2 separate regions of the Homo sapiens genome follow, and region 1 is linked to region 2. The links come from fine-mapping of genetic effects on gene expression. A gene starts in region 2. The other region holds a variant in brackets. All regions are shown on one strand. Distances are from middle to middle.

Region 1 (5,222 bases), 32 kb before region 2:
TGACTTCCCACTGCCCCTTCCTGTGGTTTCACAAAGCCCCTGCCTGTGAACTCACACTGCCACTTCCTCTGACCTCACCTAGCCCCTTTGTGTGAGTTCATACAGCCACTTCCTGTGACTTCACGTAGCCCCATCCAGTGGCTTTACCCAGTTCCTTCCTGTGATATCACACTACCCTGTCCTGTGACTTCCCACAGCCCCTTCCTGTGACTTCACACAGCACCTTCCTGTAACTTCCCACTGCACATTCTGGTGGCCTCACACTGCCCCTTTCTGTGACTTCCCACTGTCCCTTCCTGTTGCTTCACACTGCCACTTCTTTGGCTTCACAATACCCCTCCCTGTGGCTTCACAATGCCTGTTCCTGTGACTACCCACTGCCTCTTCCTGTGGCTTCACACAGCCCCTTCCTGTGACTTGACACAGCCCCTTGCTGTTACTTCCCACTGCACCTTCTTGTAACTTCCTACTGCCCATTCCTGTGGCCTCACACTGCCCCTTCCTGTGACTTCACAGCACCCCTTGCTGTGGTTTCACACGGCCCCTTCCTTTGACTTCACACTGCCTCTGTGACTTCTCACTGCCCCTTCCTGTGGATTCACAGAGCCTCTACCTGCGATTTCACACTGCCCATTCCTGTGGCTTCACATTGCCTCTTCCTGTGACTTCCCACAGCCACTCCCTGTGACTTCTCACTGCCCCTTCCAGTGACTTCACACAGCCCCTTCCTGTGACCTCATACTGCCCCTTCCTGTGACTTCACACTGCCCCTTTCAGTGGCTTCACACACTCCTTCTTGTGACTTTCCACTGCCCCTTCCTGTGACTTCCCTCTGCCCCTCCCTGTGACTTCCCACAGCTCATTCCCGTGATTTCCCATGCCCCTTCCTGTGGCTTCACAAAGCCCCTTCTGTAACTTCACACTGCCTCTTCCTGTGATTCACACAGCCCCTTCCTGTGGCTTCACACTGCTTCTTCCTGTGGCCTCACACAACCCCCCTTTCTCTGACTTCACATAGCCCCTTCCTGTGACCCCATTGCCCCTTCCTGTGACTTCACACTGCCCCTTCCTGTGGCTACACACAGCTCCTTCCTGTGGCCTCACACTGCCTGTGGCTCCACACTGCCCTTCCCTGTGACTTCACATAGCCCCTTCATGTGACTTTCCACTTCCCTTCCTGTGACTTCACACAGCTCCTTCCTGTGGCCTCACACTGCCTGTGGCTCCACACTGCCCTTCCCTGTGACTTCACATATCCCCTTCATGTGACTTTCCACTTCCCTTCCTGTGACTTCACACAGCTCCTTCCTGTGGCCTCACACTGCCTGTGGCTCCACACTGCCCTTCCCTGTGACTTCACATAGCCCCTTCATGTGACTTTCCACTTCCCTTCCTGTGACTTCACACAGCCCCTTTCATGTGACTTCACACTGTGCCTTCCTGTGGCTTCACACTGCCCCTTCCTGTGGCTTAACAGAGCCACTTCCTGTAAGTTCACCCTGCCCCTACTTGTGACATCACACAGCCCCTTCCTGTGGCTTCACACTGTCCCATTCAGTGGCTTCACACTGCCCCTTCCAGTGGCTTCACACAGCTACTTCCAGTGGCTTCACACAGCCCCTTCCTGTGACCTCACACTGCCCCTTCCTGTGACCTCAGAAGCCCCTTCCAGTGGCTTCAAACAGCCCCTTTCTATGGCTTCCCACAGCCTCTTCCTGTGACTTCCCTCTGCCCCTTCCTGTGACTTTCCACAGTCCCTTTTTGTGACTTCCCACTGCTCCTTCCTGTGACTTCCCATTCCCCTTCCTGTGGCTTCACACAGCCCCTGCCTATGGCTCAACACTGTCCCTTCCTTTGGCCTCACATTGCCCCTTCCTTTGGCTTCACACTGTCCCTGTTACTTCACACAGCCCCTTTATTTGGCTTCACACTGCTCCTTCCTTTGGCTTCACACTGCCGCTTCCTGTGACTTCACACTGCCCTTTTATCTGGCTTCACACTACCCCTTCCTATGACTTCACACAGCCCCTTCCTTGGCTTCACACAGCCCCTTCCTAACGTCACACTGCCTCTTCCTGTGGCTTCATACTGACCCTGTGGCTTCACACAGCCTCCTCCTGTGACTTCACACAGCCCCTTCCCTTGGCTTCACACAGTTCCTTCCTGTGATGTCACGTAGCCCCTTTCTCTGGCTCCACACAGCCCCTTCCTGTGACTTCACATAATTTCTTCTTATGACATCTTCCAGCCCCTTCCTATTGTTTCACACTGCTCCTTCCTGTGACTTCACTCTGCTTCTTCCTGTGACTTCACATTGTCCCTTTCTGTGACTTCACACAGCCATTTCCCATGGCTTCACACAGCCTTGACTTGCTGCAATTCAGTGTGTGCTAAATCCTAGAAGCCAGCCCTGCCTTGTAAATGACAGCCCACACAGTGGGTTCTTACATACAGAAAAAGGTTCCTATTTGCAATAAAAATCTCTTGTGATCTCCTAACCATTTTTTTTTTTTTTTTTTTTGAGATGGAGTCTCACTCTGTCGCCAGGCTGGAGTGCAGTGGTGCGACCTCGGCTCACTGCAACCTCTGCCCTCCAGGTTCAAGTGATTCTCCTGCCTCAGCCTCTCAAGTAGCTGGGACTACAGG[C/T]GCACGCCACCACACCCAGCTAATTTTTATATTTTTAGTAGAGACAGGGTTTCACCATGTTGGCCAGGATGATCTTGATCTCCTGACCTCGTGATCTGCCCACCTCGGCCTCCCAAAGTGTTGGGATTACAGGCGTGAGTCACCATGCCTGGCCCATTTCTTAATCTGCCTAAGCAAATGCCCTCTTGGCACATTTGAAGAAAACTATTTTGAACAGTTAAAAACACTATAGATATTTTACCTTAATGGATTTGTTGGTGGGTGGAGAGGGGGGAGTTGGGGAAGGTAAGAGGCTAAAGGTCCATGGCAGGGTGCAATTTGAAATTCCTCTGAGGCTCAGATCTGAATCTCATTTACTTCAAGCAAATATGGTAGGAGGAGCCATCCATGTGTCCATGGCTGTCTGCCCAGGTTCTGCTGCTTAGCTTCCATAGCATAACATCAGGGATATTGTAATCTTATTATGTGATGGAAACTTCCTTGGAGAACAAATGGCAATAGCTAGTGCTGGGGAAGGAATGAAAACCAAAAGAAGCCTTAGAAAATGATGGTTCTCAGTTGGGATGGGTGTGGGGAGGAAGTGGTACACAGGGAGACAAGACCTAGAAAATATTAGCTTTTAAAGCAAGAAAGAAAGGAATGTCAAACTTAGAGATGGCAGAAATCTATAATCCAAATGAATTCTCCACCCTCATGAAATACGAAAAGCAATTCAAAAAATCGTTTCAGCAAAGGCCTCAGCCAAGGTAAAAATTATTTTTCAAGGACAGTGATAGAAATTGAAAATTTAACTCTTGCAGCCCACTCTACTGTATTTCATGGGAGAATATAAAATGCTATAATGGTGTTTCTCAAATTCGGGGATTTGAGAAAGCCTCAAGAACTAGGCTTTCTTGAGAAGCCCTGAAAGCATTAGGGTTCTACTGAAGAGTATGGCCTAGCAGGAAGAAGGCTCTGGCTGGGTAATATCTGAGTACGAGTTCACCTTTTCAGACTCCCTCCTTCACCAGAGTGGTTTCTGTTATTGTAGGTACTGAGTTGCTATATATAACGGCCTGGAACCCAACATGTGACTGGTAGACAACAGGGAGTGAAGGATACTGGGAAAGGCATATGATGTTAGGCACGTACTTTGGAGACCCTCAGGGAACCAGTGTGGGAATCCAGAGCACCCTGGGGCAGGAGGCAGCTTCCTCCAAAGGAACAGTGTAGGGGTGAGGTTGCTCCCCAGAAAAATTGTGCTGCATTACAATTTTATCCTTCTATTCTGACCTCCCCTAATGCCAAGCACTGGACCAAGAAATAAGGACACCAGTGCGAAGAAGGCTTGGCCCCTGCCCCCCAGCAACTCACTGTCTCAAGTGAAAAGGTAATGATATAATAATTTCCCTCATGCCAATTCTGGCAAATCTAGCCTTGCCTACGTTCAGGCCACTTATCTTTCCAAACTTGTGGGACAGGGCTGGTGAAGCATGGAATGCTGGACAGCAGTTCTGGGTGCCACCACCTGAGGTCTCCACCAACATCTGATGACACCATGAGTTTGTTACATGTTTTTCACTGTTATGGCTAGAAGGATGTTGCCTCCAGATATTCTCACAATGACTCTAACAGGTAGGAAGGAAATATCATACCATTTTATGGCTGAGGAACTCGAAAAAGAGACTTCAAAATTTGCTCAAGGTGACACACCATCTAAGTAGAAGAGCTGAGATTCCAACTCTGGCCTCCAGCCTGCAGAGACCAAGCCCTTCCCAGCACACAGGAGCCAGTTCTGGCCCTGGGGACTTCAGGGCACATGGGGGAAAGAATTAGCTCAGGCCATCAGGGGTTTATCCAGAAGCATTTTCAATGCGCCCAGATAACCTGGGGGAAGCAGTGCTAGCAGAAGGATTTTAAAGACCTGAGAAATACCTGGATCCGTCTCTTCATTACATTGGCTGGGGTTCCTGATACCAGCTGAGACATGGGAGATGATGAGTTGTGTTATCTTTCAACAAATACTTACACTCACTTCAGAAAGGCAACATCTAGAAGGATGCGCTGAAGGATACACAGGAGCTGGACTCTCTAGGTCCAACCCCCCAGCTTTGCCCTAATAAGCATATATCTTCACATCAATTTCTGCATCTGAAAAATGAGTATGAAAATGGTTCCTCCCTCAAAGAGTTGCTGTGAGGATTCAACATATTTTAATGTATATAAAGTGCTGAGAACAGAGCCTTGCATACATTTTTATAGTTATTACTTAGCATTATCATTAAATCTCATGATTATTAAATCTCCAAGGTACTTGGGAACTCCAGCACCTCCTTTAAGTTACTGCCCCATGCCGCACTCTCTCCATCTGTGGATGGGCTGGTAACAGTTACAGTCACAGCATTCTGAACACTGGCAAACCATAACTGAGAGGAAAGCGTGTGAAGAGGTTTCAGGGACTGATACCAACGTGCCTCCTCAGAGCCACCACTTGCTCAAGTGACCAAAAGAGTGACCTCTGACTCCCTGCTCTGCTGCTCCTAAGTGCAGTTGACTTCTAAAGCATGGCTGCTCTGTACACACCTGTAGAGTCCTGG
Region 2 (5,222 bases):
TAACCCAACACATATATATCTGATTCTATCAATATTTTTCATCAAGTACAGAGTCCTTGGCAAACACCAAACCTCCCACCACCACTGCAAAGAAAGAAACTGACAAGTGTTCCAATCTTCGCTTTAGAAAAATACACACCAAGCCATGGCAATGACCCCTGACTCCTCAGGATAATCAAAAATGCCCCCGCAGATACTGCAGCTCAATGCTCTTTTCTTTTTTCTTTTTTTCAAAAGGACATTTAAGGATTCTATACTTTTATTTGTATACTTCTAACCCAGAGTTTCCCATCATACGTATCTTGGATCAATAATAGGATGGCATTAGGGAAATACTGAATAAAGGATACCGTATTCAAACAAGCTGGGCAAGTTCAAATCTCAGTGTAATGAATTAAAAGACAATACTCTGTGGAAGGACCCTCAAAGAGATATAGCATGTGATATATGTGATATCATATAATGGGAAATGATATAGCATCTATCATTTCCCAAAAACTATTTTAGGACTATCTCAAGGAATGACCACTCTGTGGACATAGGGATATCTTGGGAAGTGCAGCTTTGAGCCCCAGCTTTCTCCCGTTCTCTCAGCCTTCTTGCCCTGTGGTTCTCAGCCCTGGCAGCACACTGGGCTCACTTGCAGAGCCTGAAAACATCCCTTGGTCTGGGTCTCATCTGGATTTGGGCTGGGGGATGGGGGCAGCCTGAGTCAGGGCTGAGAACCACTTCTTCCCCACACCTTTTTAGTTGTTCATGCTAAGCACAGCTCAACACTAGAATTGAGATCCAATCTCAAAATTATTCACATATCACCCATTTTTGGAGCTAAATGGCACCTTGAATAACATCTAGTCCAATCTCTCATCTAACAGAAGAGGAAACTAAGGTCCTCAAAGGATTCCTAGCCCCCTGTCTCCTCCCATGCTGCTTCTAGCCAGTGCCAGGCTGCCCTGTGGTCTCTGGACCTCAAGACCCTTCATTCAGATGGAGAAGCAAAGGACAGCCTTCAGATCTCCAAGGCCATTTCACTGCCAGAGGATGACCATCAGGCCCCTCTCTCTGCAAGTGAACCCTGAGACAGTGAAATGTTGACACAAGTCCTCTTCCTAACACAATACCAGAACCCAGAGCCAGGGACGTGAAACCGGGAAGCTGCAATGACTCACAGAACGGGAAGCTTACGCTGGCAGTGGGGCAAACACACCAATGTTCCCCTAGGCAGCCTGAGCAGAAGGCAGGTACCATCTCTCCTCCAGGCACTCTGCTTCAGCCGCAGACCACAGAGCCTCTGCTACATTTGCCTTTAAAGCCAGGAGACTCCAGCATGCTAATGCCCCTCGGAGTGGATGGCTGTGGCCTGAGTTCTGGTAACACTCTTGCTCCTAAACAGGGAATTTGTAATAGGATATCTCCACACTTTTCGTTTCACATCCTGTACCCCCAATCATTCCCCCTTTTGAAGCTTAAGATTCCACTATTTCCTTCTCTTAGCAGCTTTGAGAAAAAACCTGAAGCTGGATAGGTGTTAGGAGGGGTGAAACATACACACACCCCTAGCCTCAAAGGTACCCTTCCCTGAGCCCCCAGCTCCTTATGACCAGCCCTCCACCTCTGTTCCAGCCACCTGCCAGGCCCCCCTGCACACAAAGGAGCTGTTCTCACAGAGACCCTCCATCCTACAGCGCAGTCTCTAGACAGCCTTCTAAACCCCAGGCCCAGCAAAACTCCCCACAAAGCATCTCCAGTGGGTTCCGATCTGCCTTCTGTGAGCTTGGAAGGAAAGGGAAGAGGCGAGCAGGCACGGAAGCAGCCAGGGGAGCCCAGTGAACTGCAGGAGCCCAGTTGGGGTTGCAGGGGTTTTCTGCTGCGGGAGAAGCAGAGCAACTAACCAGCGGCCGGGCCTGAGGGACGCCCCTTTCCTGGGGTTGCATGTGTCCTTTAGCTAAGCCGCCTGGGCCACATTCTCGATGGGTTTTTCTTTTCTGCCTGTTAGTGTCTGTGAAGTTGATCAATGGAAGGGCCACGTCCACAAGATCCTGGTTTCATCGTGACATCCCAGACCCACCAGTGCTTCCACATCTGCCCAACAGTCCTCCTGTCGGGGAGGTAGAGGAAGGCGGATTGGAACCTTACTAGAGCCAATTTAACTCAATGTTAATTTAGTTATTAAATGTTAATAAACGTTAGGACATTATTTTTAATATCAATACATAGCTAAATTAGAGAAGATAGTATAAAATTCACATGAACTTTGGAGAGTATTAAAATGACTTCAAAAGCATCTCATCAGAGGCTGCCGTGGGTTCCCCAGGGAACGCTCCCCTCTCCCTGCCTTGTGGATTGCATGAAGATTGCAGAGTTGCGAGTGGGTTACGGTTAGGTCAAGGAGTGCAGATTAGTAATAAAAGCCCCCTTATTACGGTCCGCCCCACTAAGAGCGGCAGGAAAGCCGATCGCCCCCAGCTCTGGTGCAGAAATGAAAGCCGCCGCCGCCCCATGCAACTTTCGGGGAACAACTCCGGCCTCGGGAGGCCGCGCAGGCTGCGCGCGCCCTGGGCCGCTGCGCGTTGACTGCAGCCACCTGTCCTGGTGATCGCCCCACCCTCCGCTCGCGCGTTCCTTCCCGCGAGTCCTACCATGTCCCCGGCGGTGCCCCGGCCGGCTCCTCGGCGCGCTCAGCCGGCTCGCAGACTCATCCCGCCTCCCCTTGGCCGCCCCCGGCGCCGTGGCTCGCCAGGCTTCCCAGGATGCGCGGCTACTCGGCTGGGGCGGGTTTCCCGGACTGAAGGTGCACACGTTCTCTGCAGCCAAGTGGCCCTGCGCCAACTCTCGGGAGATCGCTGCACACCGGGATACTCCGCGGGTGGGGAATACACGCCGGATCTACTGAGATCTACGGGGATCTGAGGGAGCCTACCCGCGGCCGCGAGCCTCTGCGGTCTACTCGGGACTTTTGCAGAGTTTGCAAAGTCCCTGCCGCGCGTCCCGGCCCAGCTTCCCCATTCCCCTGAAAGCGCGGGAGGGGGAAGCTCCCTTCACAATAAAAGCCCTGCCGGGGGCTCGGCCAGCCGCAGTCTTCTGGTCTTCTGGAGTAGGGGCCCAGGTGCTAGGAAGGAAAGGTCTACGCCCTGACTGCCCGCCTGACGGGTGATGCACCAAGGCTGGACGGTGAGGGACGCCTCTAAGGTGTGAGGGTGCTTGGTGAGTTCGCTGCAACTCAGCAATATGGCTGAGTGTTGCCCAAACTGCCACCCTCTCCTGCCAAGCAGGACAAGTCTTTTTCTTTACTGTCGCTTGTCAGAAGGACAAGTCTTTTTTTACTGTCACTTCTTCGCCTTGTTTGGGTTCAGTCCCCAAGAGGATTTGGAAGGAAAATCCGTTGACCACTAAGCTAATTAACAATGAAGAGTTTTTGTCCTTGAGAACTAATCACTGTTAAAGTCACTGAAGTAAGTGGCTGATACCTCTCTGCTTTGGATGCACAGACAGTGCCTTTGTGTCCCCTGAGTCACCTACTGCCAACAAAGGCACAGTCAGAGCAAGACCTGAGAGTCTATCCGTTCCCCGTTGGGGAATGTCCTGGGCTTAGGGGTTCTGTAGTCCCAAAATCAGGGCTAGCCCCACTATTAACAGCTGGATGACCATCGACCAGTCCCCAGACGTCTTTATGACTTGTGTCCCCCAGTGGCCCAATGTTTGGACCCCAGGATTATTAAGAGCCTGTAGACAATGGATGGAGGCGAGGCAGAGTCAGCAGTAGGGTGCTCTGAGAGAATTTGGGGGCCAGGCTGAAAAATTAGCCTCCAGTACTGAAACTAACAGGAAGCATCATTAGCTAGATGAAGACAGGCATCTTCCCAGCAGTCTCCTGCCCCAGAATGATCTGAGGTTATCACTGATGGCAGTGCTTCTAAAGGGAAGCAAAGATCCAGAGAGTCCCCTTAAATTGTGTATGTGTGTATGGGCAGGAGGAACAGATGAAGGGAAAGTATTCGGTCCTTAACATTCCAGATGCTTTCTGTACATTATTTCATTTAATAACCACAAACGATCCTAAAAGGAAAACTTTTGCAAATTAGGAAAGTCAGGATTAGGGAGGTGAAGTAACTTTCCTGAGACCAGATCGCCAGTAAACAGTTTAGCAAATCCAAGTCTATTTGCCAGAACATGAAACAAAGAGGAAGACTTGATATGGCAGGAACAGGAGGCAGGATGTAGCACTGCAAACTGCAGCTTGTCTGTGCATATGGACTACTGAAAGGACAGAGAGTTTGAGCCCTGGTTGGGAAATGAGGGAAGAGGGTGGAGGACAGTACAAACCATTCAGGGTTTTATTTAGATGTTTAGGGAGACGCTGTGATCTTTTGAGTCTCATTTTCTGACTGTGACCCCACACAAGATATATATTAAACATATATGTATAAATGTAACTAAAAGATTGTTTTATAAAACATTACTTCATGTGATGCACTCTGACATTTTCTATTCTATTCCAATTTTATGTATTTTTAATGATGGTCTCAAATCACTAACTTAGACAGGAAGAGAGTGCCCAGTATTTCCAGGATTACTGGAAGCAGAACTGTTTTTCAAAAGAAGCAGCTCCAATGACTCATGGAACACACTTGGGAAAAGCTGCTGCAGGATCTAGCCCAGCCAAATAAAATGTCACACAAGAACATGGCTAAGCTGTAAAGAATTGTTTGTTGTTATAGCATATCCTGGTCCATCCTAATAACATGAATAAAATTACTTTTAAGAAGAATTACTTGAAAAGAGTCATAAATCAGATTTTTGTCATTTCTCTGCTCAAAACCTACCAGAGGCTTCAAATCTCCTGCAGTGTAACATGCCACATCTTACAGGGGCCTACAAGTCCTTTCACACTTTGGCCCTCATTGGTTCTCTAACATTATCTCTGCACACTCTCTCTCACTGTGCTCCAGGACACACTCACCTTCTTATTGTCCCTTGCATATTACAGGCAAGATCCCACCTCAGGACCTTTGCACTTGTTATCCCTCTCCCTAGAATGCCCCAGATATCCCCATGGTTTGCTCCCTCATCTCCTTCAGGTCTTTGCCCAAGTGTCACCTCTTTAGTGAAGCCTTCTCTGACCACTCTATTTAAGATTGCACACTCCATTCCTCTTCAGTTCCACCTTGTAATTCTTTTTTTTTTTTTTTTTTTTTTTTGAGACGGAGTCTCGCTCTGTCGCC

Evidence for each region. PIP is the estimated chance that this variant, and not a neighbour inherited with it, causes the effect. A credible set is the group of variants that fine-mapping cannot tell apart.
Region 1: its variant is the best candidate, but not a certain one, in a credible set for the expression of GASK1A in lung (TOPMed, PIP 0.55).

Annotation. Positions count from the first base shown.
Region 1 is chr3:43,008,680-43,013,901 of GRCh38, reverse strand. The region is part of intron 1 of GASK1A (golgi associated kinase 1A); the gene reads right to left. Among named protein-coding and RNA genes, the nearest start is that of GASK1A, 32 kb to the right of the region's middle. The variant C/T (reference allele first, on the strand shown) is at 2,647.
Region 2 is chr3:42,977,063-42,982,284 of GRCh38, reverse strand. GASK1A (golgi associated kinase 1A) reads right to left here and starts at 2,974. Exons shown (of 5, transcript NM_001129908.3): 1 at 2,640-2,974. The coding sequence starts at 2,642.